Linked DNA regions of Homo sapiens: regions 2 and 3 are each linked to region 1. The links come from fine-mapping of genetic effects on gene expression. A gene starts in region 1. Each other region holds a variant in brackets. All regions are shown on one strand. Distances are between the middles of the regions.

What was found. PIP is the estimated chance that this variant, and not a neighbour inherited with it, causes the effect.
Region 2: its variant is the best candidate, but not a certain one, in a credible set for the expression of TST in whole blood (TOPMed, PIP 0.73).
Region 3: its variant is the best candidate, but not a certain one, in a credible set for the expression of TST in whole blood (INTERVAL, PIP 0.64).

What each region holds. Positions count from the first base shown.
Region 1 is chr22:37,015,882-37,022,701 of GRCh38, reverse strand. TST (thiosulfate sulfurtransferase) reads left to right here and starts at 3,255. Exons shown (of 3, transcript NM_003312.6): 1 at 3,255-3,302; 2 at 3,949-4,564. The coding sequence starts at 3,970. It overlaps MPST (mercaptopyruvate sulfurtransferase), which reads right to left and starts at 2,960. Exons shown (of 3, transcript NM_021126.8): 1 at 2,830-2,960. The coding sequence starts at 2,865. RefSeq lists silencers at 2,644-2,963, 2,974-3,093, 3,124-3,513, 3,674-3,733 and enhancers at 3,207-3,708, 3,737-4,712.
Region 2 is chr22:36,838,305-36,845,124 of GRCh38, reverse strand. No RefSeq gene overlaps it. Among named protein-coding and RNA genes, the nearest start is that of NCF4, 19 kb to the left of the region's middle. The variant A/C (reference allele first, on the strand shown) is at 3,977.
Region 3 is chr22:37,062,641-37,069,460 of GRCh38, reverse strand. It overlaps TMPRSS6 (transmembrane serine protease 6), which reads left to right. Exons shown (of 18, transcript NM_001374504.1): 16 at 117-388; 17 at 2,499-2,635; 18 at 3,223-4,025. The coding sequence ends at 3,381. It overlaps KCTD17 (potassium channel tetramerization domain containing 17), which reads right to left. Exons shown (of 9, transcript NM_001282684.2): 9 at 6,071-6,820. Among named protein-coding and RNA genes, the nearest start is that of KCTD17, 14 kb to the right of the region's middle. RefSeq lists an enhancer at 5,373-6,196. The variant G/C (reference allele first, on the strand shown) is at 2,869.

The sequences.
Region 1 (6,820 bases):
GCAGCCTTGGGCGGGTATTAGGACGCCTGCTTTATGAATGAGGCCACTGGCAATTAGAAGAATAAGTGCCTTGCCCGTGGTCACAGGAGGCAGCCTCAGGATTTGCAGCCAGAATTTGACCCCTCAGGCTGGACTTCCCCTGCCCCAGGTGCCATGATGACCAGGGCCTAATGAGTTCTAGGGTGACACCCTGTGCCCACCCCCACAGTCTGGCCGCAGCTGGCTTTTAGGAACCTACTTCACCCATGCGGTCAGGCCTTGTGCCGGACACCGAGGCACTCTTGCCTTTGCCAAGCCCTGGGGGGAAACGTCAGGCTGCAGGCAAGAGAGAGTGAAATTGAGGATAGTTTAGAATTCAGTGTTGAGCACAGAGGGCCCCTATGTTTGCCTGGGGTGGCAGCAGAAGAGGTGGGAAGGCTTCCTGGAGTAGGAGGAAGTCCAGACTAATCTGACTTTTCCAGGGGCCCAGGAAGCCTCAGCACGGTCTTTAGGGTAGGGAGGCTGCCAAGGGGTGTTTGGCTAAGGGGTGATCCCCATTATCTGCGTTACAGCACAGCTAGGGGGCGCTGTGCTGGCAGATGCTGCAGGTTCCTTCCTGAGGAACCCTATTGTGGGAACCACAGCAGCCCCTGTGCACCCCCAAACACTGTCCCCTATTCTTGAGGATCCTTGTTTCCCTCACCCAATCATCCATTTACAGTAGAAAGAGCCCTGGTTTAGGAGCCAGAGAGCCCCCCAAATCAATGTAAACCCCACTCCACTGCTTAACTGGTTGTGTGATGTGGGTGTGTAGGGTCTCTGGGTGGTTTCTGTTCCTTATAATGGAGCTTCTCACCTCCACCTCTTAGAGCCAAGATTAAACAATAAATGTAGAGGGGCAACCACCATGCATTACATCTGGCTGGTTTTAATAATCATTAAAAACGGTTTAGGTCGGGCGTGGTGGCTCACACCTGCAATCCCAGCACTTCGGGAGGCCAAGGCGGGCGGATAACGAGGTCAAGAGTTCAAGACCAGCCTGACTAACATGGTGAAACCTCATCTCTACTAAAAATACAAAAATTAGCTGGGCATGGTGGCATGAGCCTGTAGTCCCAGCTACCCGGGAGGCTGAGGCAGGAGAATCGCTTGAACCTGGGAGGCAGAGGTTACAGTGAGCCGAGATCGCGCCACTGCACTCCAGCCTGGGCAACAGAGTGAGACTCCATCTCAAAATAATAATAATAATAATAATATTGCATTATTTCTTCCATTACTCTCATTGGTGGCCCTGGAACTGCCAGCAGCAAATCTAAAATCTTAGAATTTCAGGGCTTGGTGGGACTTCAGAGATCTGAGGTCACCCTGCCCCAGTCTCCCTGCTTGATTGGCACTTCTCACAAAGGTCTGTGGGCCATAAAGGAGGGTGTGAAGGCAGGCTGTGGGTGTCAGGGAGGGGTAGAAACCAGGTGCCTGTGTGATTCAGAAGCCGGGATCACTGTAGGTGAGGGTGCCCTGGGAGTGGAGGACCCCAGGACGTAACCGCCCCAGGCTCATGTCAGAAGGATACACAGCTGCACTGAAGCAAGCGTGAGCCGCAGGCTGGATCCAGGGTACCCCTTGAGGAGCAGAGCTTGGGAGCTCCTCTTGGACCTCCCCAGCCTGGTCCCTCCTGCCCACCCCCTCCCCCAACCACCAGACACTAGGCTTTGAGGATTGCTGTGAGCATTTTAGAACAAAACCTTTTTTTAAAAAGAGGGATGAGGCCAGGGATGGTGGCTCATGCCTGTAATCTCAGCACTTTGGGAGGCTGAGATGGGCAGATCACTTGAGCCCAGGAGTTCAAGACCAGCCTGGACAACATGGTGAAACCCCATCTCTACCAAAAATTTAAAAATTAGCCGGGAATGGTGGCACATGCCTGTGGTCCCACCTACTTGGGAGGCTAAGGTGGGAGGATCGCTTGAGCCTGGGAGGCGGAGGTTGCAGTGAGCTGAGATGGCGCCACTGCACTCCAGTCTGGGCCACAGAACCACAGCCTGTCTCAAAAAACAAAACAAAACAAAAGGTCAGGGTTGGGAAACAGGGAAAGCTTCCAGGCTGGCCTCTGCAAAAGCTAGGGAGGGGCAATGGTGTCCCCCAGTTTGCAAGAGCCCATGGCGAGCTTTTCAGGAATTTTGCCAACTGGTTGTTAAATACAGCTATTATTAAAAATTGAATTACATCAACTTATGATTAAACGGGCTAAGTTCAAAACAGGCAATTTTTTAAAAAGCATGAACCTTCAGGGAAGAGCCAGGTAAACAAAGGCAGCTGGTACCACGTGGGCTTCAGACCAGGGATCAGGCCCGGCCTCAACTCTGGGTGTGTCCTCCAGCAACTCGCTCTGCCGCTCTCTCCTGTCTTAGTAAGTTTCTGGCCTACTCCTCAGGGTTATTGTGGGAATTAAGTCACACCACGGGAGTACCCAGCAAAGTGCCACACCAAGCAGGGCTGGACAATGTTAGTTCCTTTCACTCACTAACAAGTTATTGGCTAGTGTCTCTTCCTGGGGCCTCTGGGTCAGCGGGGTCTCGTCTCCCTGTCCTCCTCTCTCTCCCCCGCCCTCTCTGGTGCCACCAGGTCACCCACTTCCACCCAAGGCTCCCCACCCGCCACTCGCCACGACCCCACCCGGCAGGCCGCCCCAAGCGGACAGTCACCCTTAGTGCCAACGTAGCGGCGCGCCTTCTCTCCTAGACTAAGCCCCCTCTTCCGCCCAGGTCCCGCGCGGGAGCCCCGCGCCGAGCACCCCCAAAGAGCCACTCCCTCCCCCTCCAGAAAGGCAAGCCGCCACGCCGCGGCAGTTACCCGGGTCTCGGACTCCCGGCTTCCTGGCTCCGCCATGGCCCCCGCGGCGCGGCGCCCCCTCCCCGCGCCCGCAGCTGTCCCCTCCTCCCGCCACCAACCTGCAGCGGACCAAAGGGAGGAGACTCCGGCACAGCCCACCGCCGCGGCCACTCGGAGCCGCTGCTGCCCGCGCCTTCCACTGGCCGGGCCGTGGGGGTACGCCCGCTCCGCCCAGCCCAGGCCCGCGCGGCCCCCGCGCCACCCGGCGTCCCCCTCAGACCCCCGCGGGTCCCGGAGGCCCCGCGCGCGAGGTTGGCAGGTGCCGGGCGCGAAGCGGCCGCGCGGGGGAGGCGCGGGATGGCGGCGGGCGGCGCAGGGTCCCCCTCTGGCGGTGGCGCGATGGTGCGCGCCGCCTGGGGAGCTGCGGCCGGGGGTTTGAACCGGCCAACTTCTCCAGCCGGCCGGGGCGAGCGCCAGCGCGGCGTCCGGGGCGAGTGAGTGCGGGGCGGGGGCAGCGGCCGGGCGCCTGGGCCGCCGGTCGGGCCACCTGCTGCCCGGGGAAGGATAGCGTTGCGAGAGTGGGACGGGGTGCCCCGGGAACCCCTGATCCACCTAGGGCAGAGGGCAGCGAGCTACGGGCCGGACTCGGGCACTCTGGAGGCGGGCGAGCTCGGGCTGCCTGGGGAGGCCGCAGGCGATGGCGTGTGCGCGGCTCGCGGAGCTTCCTAGCCGTGCGCCCACCCCCTCTGCCTTGGAAGGAAAGGGGATTCTAAGCCCAAGATGCCATCGCCCCCCATCCCGGGCATGCTTTCATTGCTCTTTCCTGGCGGGATCGAGTACTGTAACTTCTAGGAGCCAGATCCCCGCCCCAGGAAGCGCCCCTACTTGGAGTCCTCGGAAACTCTTGCCCCACCCGCTTCTGCGCTGGGCCCCCGGGCCGGCTGGGAGGGGCGGGGCCGGCTTTCCAGAGGGAATCTGCAAACTTATCCCGCTGCACGCCCCAGCCTCGCTGGCTTGCTGTAAACAAGGAACCCGGGGGAGTGCGGAGGGAGAAAGAGCTTCTCCCAGGCCTCACCCTACTGCACACACCGACTTCCTTCCTCACGCCTGTCTCTCTTTCCTGGTTCCCACCCGTGCCAGGTGACACGCAGAGCTGAAGCCATGGTTCATCAGGTGCTCTACCGGGCGCTGGTCTCCACCAAGTGGCTGGCGGAGTCCATCAGGACTGGCAAGCTGGGGCCCGGCCTGCGGGTGCTGGACGCGTCCTGGTACTCACCAGGCACCCGAGAGGCCCGCAAGGAGTACCTCGAGCGCCACGTACCCGGCGCCTCTTTCTTTGACATAGAAGAGTGCCGGGACACGGCGTCGCCCTACGAGATGATGCTGCCCAGCGAGGCTGGCTTCGCCGAGTATGTGGGCCGCCTGGGCATCAGCAACCACACGCACGTGGTGGTGTATGATGGTGAACACCTGGGCAGCTTCTATGCTCCCCGGGTCTGGTGGATGTTCCGTGTGTTTGGCCACCGCACCGTATCAGTGCTCAATGGTGGCTTCCGGAACTGGCTGAAGGAGGGCCACCCGGTGACATCCGAGCCCTCACGCCCAGAACCGGCCGTCTTCAAAGCCACACTGGACCGCTCCCTGCTCAAGACCTACGAGCAGGTGCTGGAGAACCTTGAATCTAAGAGGTTCCAGCTGGTGGATTCAAGGTCTCAAGGGCGGTTCCTGGGCACCGAGCCGGAGCCGGATGCAGTAGGTAGGTGTCCCAGTGCTGGGTGGTCCCTGGGGAGTATTGCCCCATGGAAGGATAGGGAGTAAGGATGACTGGGACCCTCTCCAGGGTCCGTCCCATGCCTTCAATCCTCCCATGTAGGCCTCAGTCTTTCCATCGATAAAACCAGAAAGTGGAGACAAACCTAAAGGCTTTTTCAGCTTGGATGCACAAGGACCCAAGAATGTGTCCTCATAGCCATGTGCTAAGAAGCCACCTAGCATCTGTGTGAGCAGAAGTCACTGGTGACATGTCCACCACCTCCACTCCCAGGCACCAGCTGCCCCACATGTACTAGGATATACCTAAGGGTGTCATGCCCCTGAGCCAGCGTTTGCATTGCTGTACAGAAACCTCCCACGGACACATCCAGCTTCTCCAGGCCTCTCTCGTCCCGCAGAAACCCTTATAGACATCAACAGTGTCCCTCCCCGCAGGATCCCCCTCTCCCCAAATCTAGCTCTCCTGGGGCCCCTGCCTGCTGTTTGCAAAGGTTCCATAACCTTTCCAGGCAGCTGCAGCCCGTCGGCAGAGTTGTAACAGCAGCTGCCATTTCATGCCAGACACTTGGCACCGCATTATCTCAGCGAACAAAGCTCAATGCCCCTGTTTTGGCAGCGGGGGGTGGGGGGACTGAGATGCCAGGACATAAAGTGGTGGAAGGCAGGATTCGAATCCAATGCTGCCTTGTTTCAAACCAGGGCTATAAACCAGGACGCACCCAATGCTGCCCTACCCCTACTTCCCAGGGCCAGGAGGGAGTCCCCTCTGCTAGTTGCCCCAGGAAGGCGACTCAGAAGTTCCCCTCCTGTGGAAGGGAAGGCCAGGTGGATTGGATACTGCTTGAGGGTTGGGGAGAGCCTCAGGAGAGGAAATGCTGAGTTCTAGAACCTCCTAGCCAGACAGAACCTCGGAGGTCTTCCCTTTTCTAGAGGCAGGACTGCCGTCTCGCTGCCATCACTCCTGCTGAGTGCCCTCCAGTCCCTGCCTGGCCATTTCCAGGAGCAGGGCCCTCTCTTGTCTCTGGGCACCTCCTTGGTGGCTCTTTCCTCAGTCAGAGCTCCTTCTCTACAGAATCTAACTCGTGTGCAACATTTTGCCTGACTTGTTGAAAAACATCTCTTCCTGTCTGTACCTCCTACAGAGAGAATGCTGGGAAAACTGTTCTGCACACTCTTAGAGCTGGAGGGCCTGAACGGTGACCTCACCTGACAGAGGGGAGACTGAGGTGCACAGAGGCAGGGGCCAAGGCCGCATAGCTAGTTAGTGACAGAGCCAGGACAGCAGGGTCTCTGCCCTTTCCAGCGCAGCTTTTTCCAGGCCCCATATTTTTCTTGCCTGCTTGCTCTCTGAAGGTCTGGAGTTGAAGATTCAAGTTCATTTGGCACCTCCCAGAGAATCCTGGCTGGGAACGCCTGCAGCCCTCTCCTGGCCTTGGTTCAAGACGCCTCTTCTCCTTGGGATTTAAGCTGTCATGGGGGAGGATCAGTGGAATTGGTTCTCTTGCTGCTTCCCAGCCTGCCCTGAAGCAACCTAAGAAATAAGTGGAAGGGACAGCTTGGAGGTGCCAGGCCCAATGTCCTCACCCATTTTACAGATGAGGAAACTGAGGCTCAGAGGAGGAGAATGGCCTGCAGTGGGTAATGCCTCCTGAAGGCCCGGGATGCTGAAGTTCCTCCTCTGTAATTGTGTTCACACCTCCTTCAGTTTCCCTCAGGAGCATCAGGGAACATGGATTCTCATTTCAGCTCAGCCACTCCTCCTTGGAGTGACCTCAGTCCAGTTGCTTGGCCTCTCTGGGTTTCCTTATCATAAAATGAGAAGAGTCACGCCAGCCCTACCCACATGAGTATGCATTTGTTTAAATGTAGCAGTGGCGGCCGGGCGTGGTGGCTCACGCCTGTAATCCCAGCACCTTGGGAGACCAAGGTGGGCGGATCATGAGCTCGGGAGTTCGAGACCAGCCTGACCAACATGGTGAAACCCCGTCGCTACTAAAATGAAAAAAAAATTAGCCAGGCGTTGGTGGTACGTGCCTGTAATCCTAGCTACTTGGGAGGCTGAGGCAGGAGAATCGCTTGAACCCGGGAGGTGGAGGTTGCAGTGAGCCAAGATCGCGCCACTGCACTCCAGCCTGGGCAACAGAACAAGACTCTGTCTCAAAAAAAAAAAAAAAAAAAAAAAAAAGTAGCAGTGGCTGGAAAGGGATTTCAAGAAGGGTAAGGAACGATACAAATCCTG
Region 2 (6,820 bases), 180 kb after region 1:
TTGAAGGACAGGGTGCAAACAGGTTCCAAGCACCAGGAAGACTTGCTTACATCCATGCCCTCTTTGCATTTTCTTAGTTGTTTTTCCTTAGAGTTTACTAAAGCACTTTGACAGTTGCAGTCTGACTTTGATATTCCAAGAATAAATCCAGGAAGGAGTTTGTGGCCCTGGTTGGGCCAGAACATTAAAGGGATAGCAGTTCCCCTCTCTGGTCCTTGAGACCAGAGTAGAAGTGCTGAAAGGGGTCAAATCCAGACTCCGAGGACTTCGCTTCATTGCACTCACAGCCTTGCCTGTCAGGGTTGTAAAAGTAGGAAGCAAAAACCAACAGGAAAGAGATGGCTAAGTAAGTTGTAAAATCCATTTATTTATTCATGGGCAAGCCTTATTTTTGATGCAAAATGGTGTTAGTCTGATTCATTCTCTCTCTCTCTCTCTCTGTCTTGTCCCTCTTTCTCCCCAAGAGTGGGATCTGAAGGATGGTTACTGTCCCAAATCAAATTGACCTCATGCATCAGTCAAGACCCAGTCAAAACCAGAAAGCACACACACCAGTTACTTTAACAGAGGGAATTTACTATAGGGAATTGGTTAGACAGGTCTCTGGGCCTGAAAAGGCAATGGGGGACTTAAGTGAGATGCCTAGAGATAGTAACTTCAGGAAGGAACTTTGCCCCCAGGGCTGTCAGAACAAAGGGGAGAGGTGGTGGTGAACAGAACCCGGAAATTCCAAAAAGAGACTGCACAAGCTGGGATGTGGATGGCTGAGGAGGGAACACTGGCCAGCTGACCCTCAGATCTTGAGGGAGTGTGATGGGGCTGATTTGGAGGGTTCTAGAAAAAACTAGAGGGGGTAACTAAGTGCTGCTGCCAGGGTGAGGGACCAGTGCTGGGGTGAATAAGTGAAGCTGAGGGGATGCTCAGCGGATGGGCAAGTGGGAAGGAAAGCACGAGGCTCTTCTCCTCCAGCCTCACAGGCTCCCTCTAGCACCCACCAGTGCCAGGGCCTAACAGGAGGGAGCTGGCAGTGCGGAAATGGGTTTGCAGAATCCCAGCCTTAGACTGGGAGCTGAACGGGGGAGGGTGGATCGGGGGTTTATATGAGATGACAGCTTAATAACCAACACACTCTGGGGACTCCCAAAGAAATGGGCCACAAACCTTGCGGCAACTCCCAAAGCCTAATTTTGAGATACAAACTCCTCTAGAAATAAATTCTAAGAGCACTACTACGTACCAAACACTGTGCTAGGCGCTGTGAGAAGGCATGGAACTAGAAAGACATCTTCAGAGCTGAATGTTCAAATGTTGGCTCTACTATTGTATGTTGGGAGACCTCAGACGACTCACAACATTGACCTCTGTTTCCTCAATCATAAAATTCAGATGGGGGATGGCTACTCTGTGTCTCATGGCATAATTAGAAGAATTGAATCAGCTTATGACTCTAAAGTGCCTGGCAATCCTAGCTTCCAGTTGGTCTTTCCTTTTTTCCCCTCCTTCTCATTCTTCTCTTGTGTTGGTCCCTCCTCTGCCCCTGGTCTTTTTCCTCCTCCTCTATCGTCACCATAATCAATACCACCATTGCCATCCTCATCACCACCACCACCATCATCATCATCACCACCATGATCATTGCCATCATCATCACCATCACCAAGCAAGACAAAATATCAACATTAACAGGAGTTTGGAAGAAAGATTTCTCTGTAGCACGTGACGCTCTTTGATAGCATTCTGCCCACAGTAGAACTTCTTTCAAAATTGGAATCAGTCCTCTCAAACCCTGCTGCTGCTTTATCGACAAAGTTAATGGAATATTCTAAATCCTTTGTTGTCATTGCAATAATATTCACAGCATCTTCACAGGAGTAGATTTCATCTCAAGAAACCACTTTCTTTGATCATCCATAAAAAAGCAACTTCTCATCCATTCAGGTTTGATCATGAGATTGCAGCAATGCAGTCATATCTTCAGACTCTACTTCTAATTCTAGTTCTCTTGCTATTTCTACCACATCTGCAGTTCCTTCTTCCACTGAAGTCTTGAACTCCTCAAAGTCGTCTATGAGGGTTGGAATCAACTTCTTCCAAACTCCTGATAATGTTGATATTGTGACCTCCTCCCATGAATCAAAAATATGTTGAGTGGCATTTAGAACAATGAGTCGTTTCCAGAAGGTTTTCAATTTATTTTGTCCACCTCCATCAGAGGAATCACTGTTTATGGAAGCTGTAGCCTTATAAAATGTGTTTCTTAAATAATAAGACTTGAAAGTTGAAATTACTCCTTGATTCATGGGCTGCAGAATGGTTGTGTTAGCAGGCATGAAAACGACATTAATCTCCTTGTACTCCATCGGAGCCCTTGGGTAACCAGGTACATTATCAATAAGCAGTAATATTTTCAAGCGAATCTTTTTTTCTGAGCAATAGGTCTCAATAGTGGGTTTAAATGATCAGCAAACCATGCTGTAAACCGATGTACTGCATCCAGGCTTTATTTTTCCATTTATAGAGCACAGGCAGAGTAGATTTAGCATCATTCTTAAGGGCCCTAGAATTTTCAGAATGGTAAATGCGCACTGGCTTCAACTTAAAGTCACCAGCTGCATTAGCCCGTAACAATAGAGTCACCCTGTCCTTTGAAGCTTTGAAAACAGGCATTGCCTTCACCTGTCTAGCTATGAAAGTCCTAGATGGTATCTTCTTCCAACAGAGGGCTGTTTCATCCACATGGAAAATATCTTACTTAGTGTGGCCACCTTCATCAATGACCTTAGCCAGATCTTCTGGATAACTTGCTGCAGCTTCTCCATCAGCACCTGCTGCTTCACCTTGCACTTTTATGTTATGGAGACAGCTTCTTTCCTTAAACCTCATGCATTAACCTCTGCTACCTTCAAGCTTCTTTCTGAAGCTTGCTCACCTCTCTCAGCCTTCACAGAATTGAAGACAAGTAGGGCCTTGCTCTGGATCAGGCTCTGGCTTAAGGGAATGTTGTGGCTGGTTTGACTTTCTATCAAGACCACTCAAACTTTCTCCATATCATCAATAAGGTTGTTTCACTTTCTTATCATTCGTGCGCTCACTGGAGTAGAACTTTTAATTTCCTTCAAGAACTTTTCCTTTGCATTCACAACTGATCTAACTGTCTGGTGCCCATCTTTTGGCCTATCTCAGCTTTTGGCATACCTTTCTCACTAAGTTGAACCATTTCTAGCTTTTGATTTAAAGTAAGAGACAGGACTTTTCATTTCATTTAAACACTTAGAGGCCATTGTAGGCTTATTAACTGGCATAATTTTAATACCTTTGTGTCTCAGGGAATAGAGAGAGAGAGAGGGAATGGCCATTCCATGGAGCAGTGAGAACACACACAACATGTATCGATTAAGTTTGCCATCTTACATAGTCATGGCTCATGGAGCCCCAAAGCAATTACAATAGTAACATCAATGATCACTGATCACAGACCACCATAACAGATATCATAATAATGAAAAAGCTGAAAATATTGCAAGAATTACTAAAATGTGGCACGGAGACATGAAGTGAGCACACGTTCTTGGAAAAATGGCACCGATAGACTTCCTGGGTGCAAGGTTGCCACAAAACTTCAATTTGTGAAAAATCCAATATCTGCAAAGTGCAACAAAGCAGAACCCAATCAAAGGAGGTGTGCTTGTATTTTGAAATGAACATTCATTTGGGAGACTATTCATACATTTATTCATATAATAAAGTCATATAATACATTAAAAATAAAAGAATATTTGGAGGCTTACCTCCTAGTGGTGGAATTGCTGGAACAAAGGGCATGTGCAGCTTTTTCTTTTGTTTTTTTTTTTTTAGATGGAGTCTTGCTCTTTCACCTAGGCTGGACTGTGGGTGCAGTGGTGTTAGCTCACTGCAACCTCGGCCTCCCAGGTTCAAGCAATTCTCCTGCCTCAGCCTCCCAAGTAGCTGGGATTAC[A/C]GGCACCTGCTACTATGCCCGGCTAATTTTTGAATTTTTAGTACAGATGGGGTTTCGCCATGTTGGCCAGGCTGGTCTTGAACTCCTGACCTCAAGGGATCCACCCACCTTGGCCTCCCAAAGTGCTCGGATTACAGGCGTGAGCCACCATGCCCAGCCACATGTGCATTTTTAATTTGGATGGAAATCTCAAAATTTCCCTCCTAAAATAGAAATTTACATTTTCTTAATTCATTGCCATCACTGAATACAACTGTACTTAAACATTTTTGACCATCTGATAAGTTAAAAAAGTCTCTGATTTTGGTTTGTATTTCTCTGATGGCAGAGGAGGCTGAGTATATTTTCATACATTTATTGGCCTTTTGTATTTTGCATTTGTATTATTGGCCTCCTGTCTGTGCCTTAGGACCCTCCTTTCTATTGGACTGTTCATCTTTTTCTTATTGATTATGAGCTATTTGTAAATCAACAGCATTGGTCTTTTTTCTAGCACTTGTCTGAAAGTATTATTTGGCCATTTTGTTGTTTGCTTTGAACTTGGTCCATGGCATTTTTTTTTAACTCTCACACAAGTTTTAATTTGCTACAGTAATGTTTGTCAATCTATTTGTTTATGGTTTCTGGGCAGACTCATGTCTTCAGAGCTGTCCCTATCCTTGCCAGCAGGTTGAAGGAATTTCCTGGGTGGCTAGGTGACATGGCAGCCACTGGATGTGTCCCCAGGCTCGCCCTCCGCCACCTCCATGTGGAGATGCCGCCCCTCAGAAGATTCAGCAAACACAGCCCCTTGGCCTGCTCCAAGAAGGTGGCTGCCCCGCCTTTCACAGCCAAATTCAGGATGCACCTGGCTTTCGTTTTCCCCTGACATCCAGCTCCTTTTAAGGAGCTATGCATCTTATACGTTTCTTAATCCCCCAACTAAATTTACCAGCTGTTGCTCACAGCCAAGACATCAGCTAAATTAAACTTTGGAGTGGCAAACACGGTGTATCAGATGCACTTCAGTGAGCCATGGTGGGAGCAGCCACGCCCCATCTGTCCTGAGGGCTGGGGGTCATGCTCTCCCTTCCCTCCTGGAATCTGGCCACAGCAGCATCTTCCTTCCCTCAGAAGCACTAGGGTCCCGCCACTGGAGGACCATGGGTGTATTGAGTTACTTCCACCATTGAAAAGATTCTTCCTTTCATTCTACAGGTATTTACTGAGGGCTCAATTATTGACAGGCACTGTTGTGGCAGTGGGGAAACACCTGAGGTTTTCTTTCTCGTGACAGAGAGAAATGAGGAACAAATGAATGTATAATCCACAGTTGAGCAGCAAGAGAGCCTCGGAGCAAGGGAAGCAGATAGAGAGAGAAGTGAGGGTAGGGCTGGGTGTCTCTTCGGACATGGTGGCCGGGGAAGGCCTCTGATGAGGTGACATTTGTGTAGAGACTGGAATGAGGTCCTAGACACAGCCATGTAGGTATCTGGGGGAGAAGGTTCCAAGGCATGTTCTAGAACCAGCAGGGCAACTAGCAGTGAAGGAGGAAGGGCTGGGTGGGAGGAGAGGTGGAGCGAGTTGTGGGAAGATGCTAGCATTCTCCTCCATGTGCTATGGGAAGTGAGTCAAGGTTTGAGAATTGGGAGAAGGGTGAGGTGTTTTCCATCTGAAGTGTGTTTGGTTTGCATTTACCCTCTATGACAGCTTAGGCACAGGAAAGGTCAGACGTGGATTGATGGTGAAAAAGAACTGATGGGCCGGGCGCAGTGGCTCATGCCTGTAATCCTAGCACTTTGAGAGGCCGAGGCAGGCGGATCCCCTGAGGTCAGGAGTTTGAGACCAGCCTGGCCAACGTGATGAAACCCCGTCTCTACCAAAAAAAAAAAAAAAAAGAAAGAAAAAAAATAGCAGGGCATGGTGGTGCATGCCTGTAGTCCCAGCTACTCAGGAGGCTGAGGCAGGAGAATAGCTTGAACCTGGGAGGCGGAGGTTGCAATGAGCCGAGATAGCACCACTGCACTCCAGCCTGTGATGGTGAGAATTCAGGCACCCCAGAGCAGCTCCTGGGGATCCTTTGAGTGAGCAGAGTGGGTATGCCCTATGCTGCTCCTGTCACATATTGGGTTTGTGGGTGAAACTCTCCCTGCTCTGGACACACTCACAAAGCAGGAAGGTCTACCTGGCTGGAACCTGCATCCCTGTTCTCTGGAGGGAGGAAGCCCTTCCCTCACACCTGGACACTCAGGCCCAGCAGGCTCTCTGCTTGGGTCCAGCTGTGACCCTGTGTCCTGCTGCAAGGCCCCAGCTGCTCAGCCTGGCCTCTGAGGACCTGCCGGATTGGCAGGGACTGGCCGTCCTGGGCAGACACCGCAGACTGGGGCTGGCCCTCAGTGCTGAAGGCTCCTGAGTTGAACTGGCCAGCACACCGAGGCTGGCCAAAAGTGCAGCCCAGCACCAGCTTGCGAGGAGGCTCCCAGGAGAAACAATTAGAAAGCATCACAAAACACCTGGCGGACAACAGGGGCTGGAGAAATGCCAGCTCCTGCTCCAGTCACACACAGGCTCAGGCAGCATAACAGCCGTGAGACACACACGCCACCCAGGTGGTGTTGAAGACAGGCAGGGACCACCTAGGTGGTGTTGAAGACAGGCAGGGACCACCCAGGTGGTGTTGAAGACAGGCAGGGACCAGCCCAGGAGGAGCCTGACCAGTTGCTAACTTGACAACCTTACTCACACACACACACACAGACACACACACACCACACACACACAGACACACACATACACACACACCACCCCCCCACACACACATCACACACACACATACACATACATACACCACACACACACACATAC
Region 3 (6,820 bases), 47 kb before region 1:
TGTGGAGGGCACTGTCCCGGGCGGGGATCTGGCTATCTTGAGGGTCCCTGGATGGGGAGAGGCAGCTTCCTCCCACCTCACCTCACCCCACCCCACCCCACCCCACCCCACCCCAGCATGGCCTCCACGGTGCTGTGGACCGTGTTCCTGGGCAAGGTGTGGCAGAACTCGCGCTGGCCTGGAGAGGTGTCCTTCAAGGTGAGCCGCCTGCTCCTGCACCCGTACCACGAAGAGGACAGCCATGACTACGACGTGGCGCTGCTGCAGCTCGACCACCCGGTGGTGCGCTCGGCCGCCGTGCGCCCCGTCTGCCTGCCCGCGCGCTCCCACTTCTTCGAGCCCGGCCTGCACTGCTGGATTACGGGCTGGGGCGCCTTGCGCGAGGGCGGTGAGCAGCGGGGACTTGCGGCGGGAGGCGGAGGGAGACCGTGCGGATCTGCGCCGTAACACCTGGCCTGGAGAAGGGCGGGGCTGGGGGTCCCGGGGCTCCACCCCATAGGCCCTCTAGTGCTGGGATTCAAATTGGGCTGAATTTTACGGTAGAAAACCACCATTTAATGCGGCCTGTAGGCCCCTGCCCCTCCCCTCCTAGCTCTTCCCTTCCTTCTGGAAGGGCGTTATGTGTGGGGCAAAGGGGCAGGTCTGGGACGCCACTGCCCACGTGCAAGCTCCACCTGCTGTTCCTTGGGCTGCAAGGGTGGAAGGCTCTTAATTACTAGCACTTTCCACATCCAGGCTGGATTTTAGGGGAACTTGACTTCATATAATCCACCCAACAGCCCTACGGGCGGATGCTGTGGCCCTATTTTATGGATGGAGAAACCAAGGCTCAGAGACATGTTGCTGTAAGTCACACAGCCAGAGAGGACTGGAGCAAAGATTAGAACCCAGGGCTGGCTGCCTCCAGAGCCCCTGCTCTTCCTGCTACTGCTCTCAGAAACAGGGTCTCTCCCCTTTCTACGTTCACTGACCAGAGTCCCTGGCGGCCACCGCACAGTTTTGGGGACACAGACCCAGCTGGCAAACCTACAGACATGCCCTGCAGCGTTAGTGTTGGTGGCTTCAAAAATGTGTACAGTGACTTACAATCTGGAAGCAGGCGGGGCCGCAGAGATATTTTAAGGATGGGGAAACTGAGGCTCAGAGGAACAGTGACTTACCCAAGGGGATGGCAGTGGTCATGGCAAAGCAAAGGCTGGTTCATTCACTATTCCTTCACTCATTCAGTCACTCAATGACACTTTCTGAGCACCAAGTACGTACCAGGCGTGGGGTTAGGGGAAGGGTACATAAGGATGAAGAGAGAACATTCTCGGGGGAGACAGACAGTGGTAAGAGCTGACATGGATGGGGAGATGCAGGAACAGTGGAGACACAGAGGAGGCTCCTGCCCAGCTAGGGTCAGGGGAGGCTTCCAGGGGAGGGTTGTTTAAGCTGAGGCCTGGAAGATGAGTTGGCAACATTCAGACAAAGGGGAAAGACATTCAGGTGAAGACACAGGTGCCAAGACAGGAAGATGTGAGAACATCCGCAGCCTGCCAGAGGGGCTGAGGTGGGGGGCAGGCGTGCCTGGGCGAGGAGCAACCAGAATGGCAGACAGGGCCTTGGGCGAGGAGCAACCAGAATGGCAGACAGGGCCTTGCCGGCCAGCATAAGGATCTTAGGCCAGGAGTTCTCCCTCCTACCTGCACCTTAGAACCATACGGGGAGTTTCAAGAAAAACTGCGTATCAAGGCTCCCCGGGGGACTGTGATATGCAGCCCTCGTGGAGAAGCGCTAGGGCAGACTGCAGAGTTGGGGCACTGCAGAGTTCTAAGGAAACCATGAAGGGATCAGATGTGGGCTTCGGAGACATCTGCAGGTGCTGTAACAGAGCAGCGAGGAGCCAGCCAGAGCCCAGAGGTGCCTCAGCAGACAGAGGTGGGGGACAAGAAGCTGGAGGAAGACACTCATCCACACGGGCTTTTTTCTTTTTTCTTTTTTTTGTTTTTTTGAGACAGAGTTTCGCTCTTGTTGCCCAGGCTGGAGTGCAATGGCGCGATCTCGGCTCGGATCCCCCTCCTCCCGGGTTCAAGCGGTTCTCCTGCCTCAGCCTCCTGAGTAACTGGGATTACAGGCATGTGCCACCACACCCAGCTAATTTTGTATTTTTAGTACAGACAGGGTTTCTCCATGTTGGTCAAGCTGGTCTCAAACTCTTGACCTCAGGTGTTCCGTCCGCCTCAGCCTCCCAAAGTGCTGGGATTACAGGCATGAGCCACCGTGCCCGGCCCTCCACATGGGCTTTGGTCGGGGGCTGTCACCATGAACCCCACAGAGAAAGAGCTAGAATAAAGTGACAGGGAGGCAGAGGGGCAGGTGCGACCCTAGCAGGGGTAAGGGTGGGCAGAGCAGGAGAGAAGTAGGCTCCTGAGATGCAAAGGGAATAATGTTAGGGAGAATAGAGAACAGGGGCTCCAGGCTCCTGAGATCTCACTTCTGCCCTTGACCACGGACAGGCCCCATCAGCAACGCTCTGCAGAAAGTGGATGTGCAGTTGATCCCACAGGACCTGTGCAGCGAGGTCTATCGCTACCAGGTGACGCCACGCATGCTGTGTGCCGGCTACCGCAAGGGCAAGAAGGATGCCTGTCAGGTGAGTCCCCCGGGCATGGGAGGGAGAGAGGAGGGAGAAAGGATGCTGCCCACATCACCAGGGTCTGGCCCTTTGCTCACATCAGCCTGCTGAAGCCTCCCATCCTCCCAGCAAGGTGGTGATGGCCACCCCTACTTTACAGAAGAGGAGACTGGGGCTTAGAAAGGTTGAGGAGCTTGCCCAAGGTTGCAGAGCCACAGATCAGAAGAGATGCTGTGATGGGCAGGTGTTAG[G/C]CTCAAACCCAGTTCTGCTCCTTGCCCACCACAAGGCACTAGGCCCAGGGTCCCACAGTGAGGTGGATGCATGGAAGAAGAAAGGGGTGTCAGCCACAGAAGGGAGGCGGAGGCAGAGTGGGGGCGTGGGGACACAGCCACAGTTCCAGGAGGTCCCAGGCTGGCTGGAGGCCGGGGAGGGCTGGCTTGGGCTCTCTCCATTTAGCAGGCGAGGGGAAAGCAGAGCTTTAAGACTGAACGTGACTCTGGCACCCAGTCAATTCCCAACAGTCAGGACTTAATCCCTATGGCTCTTCACCTGGAAAAGGGGGTGCCCTTACCCTGCTTCAGTCCTTTCTCCTTTCCCCCTTTCAGGGTGACTCAGGTGGTCCGCTGGTGTGCAAGGCACTCAGTGGCCGCTGGTTCCTGGCGGGGCTGGTCAGCTGGGGCCTGGGCTGTGGCCGGCCTAACTACTTCGGCGTCTACACCCGCATCACAGGTGTGATCAGCTGGATCCAGCAAGTGGTGACCTGAGGAACTGCCCCCCTGCAAAGCAGGGCCCACCTCCTGGACTCAGAGAGCCCAGGGCAACTGCCAAGCAGGGGGACAAGTATTCTGGCGGGGGGTGGGGGAGAGAGCAGGCCCTGTGGTGGCAGGAGGTGGCATCTTGTCTCGTCCCTGATGTCTGCTCCAGTGATGGCAGGAGGATGGAGAAGTGCCAGCAGCTGGGGGTCAAGACGTCCCCTGAGGACCCAGGCCCACACCCAGCCCTTCTGCCTCCCAATTCTCTCTCCTCCGTCCCCTTCCTCCACTGCTGCCTAATGCAAGGCAGTGGCTCAGCAGCAAGAATGCTGGTTCTACATCCCGAGGAGTGTCTGAGGTGCGCCCCACTCTGTACAGAGGCTGTTTGGGCAGCCTTGCCTCCAGAGAGCAGATTCCAGCTTCGGAAGCCCCTGGTCTAACTTGGGATCTGGGAATGGAAGGTGCTCCCATCGGAGGGGACCCTCAGAGCCCTGGAGACTGCCAGGTGGGCCTGCTGCCACTGTAAGCCAAAAGGTGGGGAAGTCCTGACTCCAGGGTCCTTGCCCCACCCCTGCCTGCCACCTGGGCCCTCACAGCCCAGACCCTCACTGGGAGGTGAGCTCAGCTGCCCTTTGGAATAAAGCTGCCTGATCCAAGCCCCGCTGCTGGAGTTTGAATGGGACCCAGGCACCAGCCTCATGCCCTTGACTGGAGCAGCCCCTGCTTCCTGCTCAGCCTGTTTGACAAGTGTCCAGAAGGCCAAGGTGGGCTCAGTGGCAGTGGGCGTGGCCACTGAGGGCTGGGGCCTGCAGGGCAGCTGCCCAGGTCCCAGAAGAAATGCCAGGAAGGCAATCATTTGGGGACCCTCAGGTCAGAGGGATGTGAGGAGCAATCGTCTCCTTTTGGAACCTTAGGAGGAAACTGAGGCTCAGAGAGGCGGTTAAGACATCCTCATAGTGGCACTGGGGGTTAGGAGTGGAGGTGGCATAGACTCCTGTCTCCCAGCTCCCTGTCTGCCAAGGCCCCGTCCAGTGCGACACTCCCTTCCTTTGCATTCTTTGAGCCACTGAATAAAGCCTTGGGCTCCAACCATGTGCCAGCACTATGCTGGGGCCACAGGGGTGAAGGACCTGGCTCCTGACCCCAGGAGCAGTGGGGATGATCCAGTGGGAAGGGGCCGGAGGGGAGCGTGGACTGGGCAAGTCAAGGCAAGCTGCCTGGAGGCTGTGAGACTTGAGCTGGGGTTCAGAGGTGGTCCAGGTGGGAATATCCGGGAAGGATATTCCAGGCAGGGAAGAGCACGTGCAAAGGCACAGTCCCGGAAGAATGAGGCACGCTAGGACCCAGCAAGCCGAGTGAGTGTTAGAACAGAGCTCGAGAGGATGACTCAAGAATTCAGAGGGGCGAACTGAGGCGGGATAGCAGAGCCTGGGGTTGAGCCAAGGATTTGATCTTGAAAGCTCTGGGGAGCCACGGTGGGCTCTATAGCATAGGAGTGACATGAGAGGATTCACATTTTGGAACCAGCCTTGGCACCAGTGTGCAGGGAGCGGCAGGCAGGGAGGCTGGTTAGGAGGCCACCGCAGGATTCCAGGATGGAGAGGATGGGCCGGGACTGAGCAGCGCCATGGGATGGACTGGAGGATGATTTTAGACCCCTGGGGGCAGTTGTGATGGAGGCAGGGGGCTCGCTGGAGGTGAGGGTGGACGGTCAAGTGTGGACAACTCTTTCTAGACGCCTAACTGGGAGCGGAAGGGAGAGAGGGAGCTTCAGAGGGGCCCCAGACTGAAGAGGGGTTTTTCCAACATGGGCGCTGCTGCCAGGTCTGTGGGTGAATGAGGCAGAAGGGGAACCAGGGACGGGGAGCACCCACCTGGGTCCTGCCAGGACGAGCCGGAGCAGCTGGGTGGGCAGGGAGCGTCTCCAGAGCAGGTGGGCAGAACACATGCAGAATACCTTGGGTGATCTGGAATCACCCTGGGCCCTACCTCAGTCTTCATCGGAATCCTGGAGGGCGGGGGACGTGTCATCTGTTCTCCTAACAAGCCTCCTGGTGACTCTTTTGCAAGGATAGTTGGACCCTAAAAATGAGTCCAGCTTTGGAGTGGAGTGTCCTCAGGGGAAGTGGCGAGGCCCTCCAGGCTTGAGCTGGCAAGAGGGTGCCCCCGCCCCAGCCTGTGGAAGGCCTGCGCCTTAGGGGCTCACTGCCCGGCAGGATTTCCTCGAGCAGCGGGGAGGACTGAGGAGTTGAAGGAACTGGCCAGGGTGGGTGGAGGGTCTGGGGTCTGGGCTGGGTCCAGCAGGGTCAGAGAAGGGAGAGGGCGGGGTGTTTATATTTCCTAGGATTTTGGGCAGAGGGGTGGCAGCAATAGGGAGGGATGGCGGTGGCCCAGGTGTCAGAGTAGAAGTGGAGGGGGCGCGCTGAGAGGTTTAGGATGTGGCAGAGGCAGCCCAGGGCTCTCCCTAGAGTTCTGTTTTCTGGCTCCCGGCCAGGTAGGGCAGGTGCTCTGGTATCCGGCCCCAGGGCAAAGGATATAGCCAGTTCCCCAAGCCCTCCCTGCAACACACACAGGAAAATGACAACAGGGCAGCGTCCCTGGGCTTTTGGGACAAAGCCGCGTTCCTTTGGACCAGACTACCACACCTTTAGTTTAGCCCCGTCCCCAAAAGTGGCCCAGAGAAAGAGGGCAACAGCCAGGCTGGGCTGTTCCTTTGGGTTTTATTACATGGTGGGGTCGGACACAGCTGAGAAGCAAGGACCCATCCCGGGAAGTCAAACACAGGAGGGCCCCTGGCTCAGCCGCCATACCCACTCTCCCCGGGCAGTTCCTGAGTCCTCCACCGCCCCTGCCCAGCCCCTTCTGCTGCCTCTCCCCGCCCCCCAGGCCAGGCGCTGGGCCAGCAATGCAAATGGCTGGGGGTGGGATCACCAAAGAGAAGGCCAAGCCAACTACCCCTACTCTGCCAGGCCAGCTCCCCACAACCTGCATCCCCAATACCTGAATCTCCATTTGCAAACACAGTGTTATGCCCAGGGGTCGGGCTGGGTCCTTCCCATCCCAGGGCAGCTGAAGGTGGGCGGCCCCTATATACTGCCTGAGGGCCTTCAGGGACTTTGCTCCTCTGTGCACCCTCACAACAACCCTGTGAGGTAGGTGGGGTGGGAGGAGTGACCCCCTGGACTAAGGCTCAAGGAGGCAATGTGACCGGGCCAGGAAGGAGCACATCCACCATGCAGCAGGGGAGCCCGGGAGAGGGGACGCAGGTGCCGGAGAGACACAGCCAGACATTGCCACACATCTGCCATGAGCAGTCCACTCTGCCCAGAGGTCCTGGGGCCCACCTTGGGCCTTAAGAGGTCCCAGGGGGGCCCCGCCCCGCCCCTGGAGGCAGGAGTAAGTCACAGCCCCACGGGTGCAGACAGAGGAGGCCGGGGAGAGGGTGCTTCTT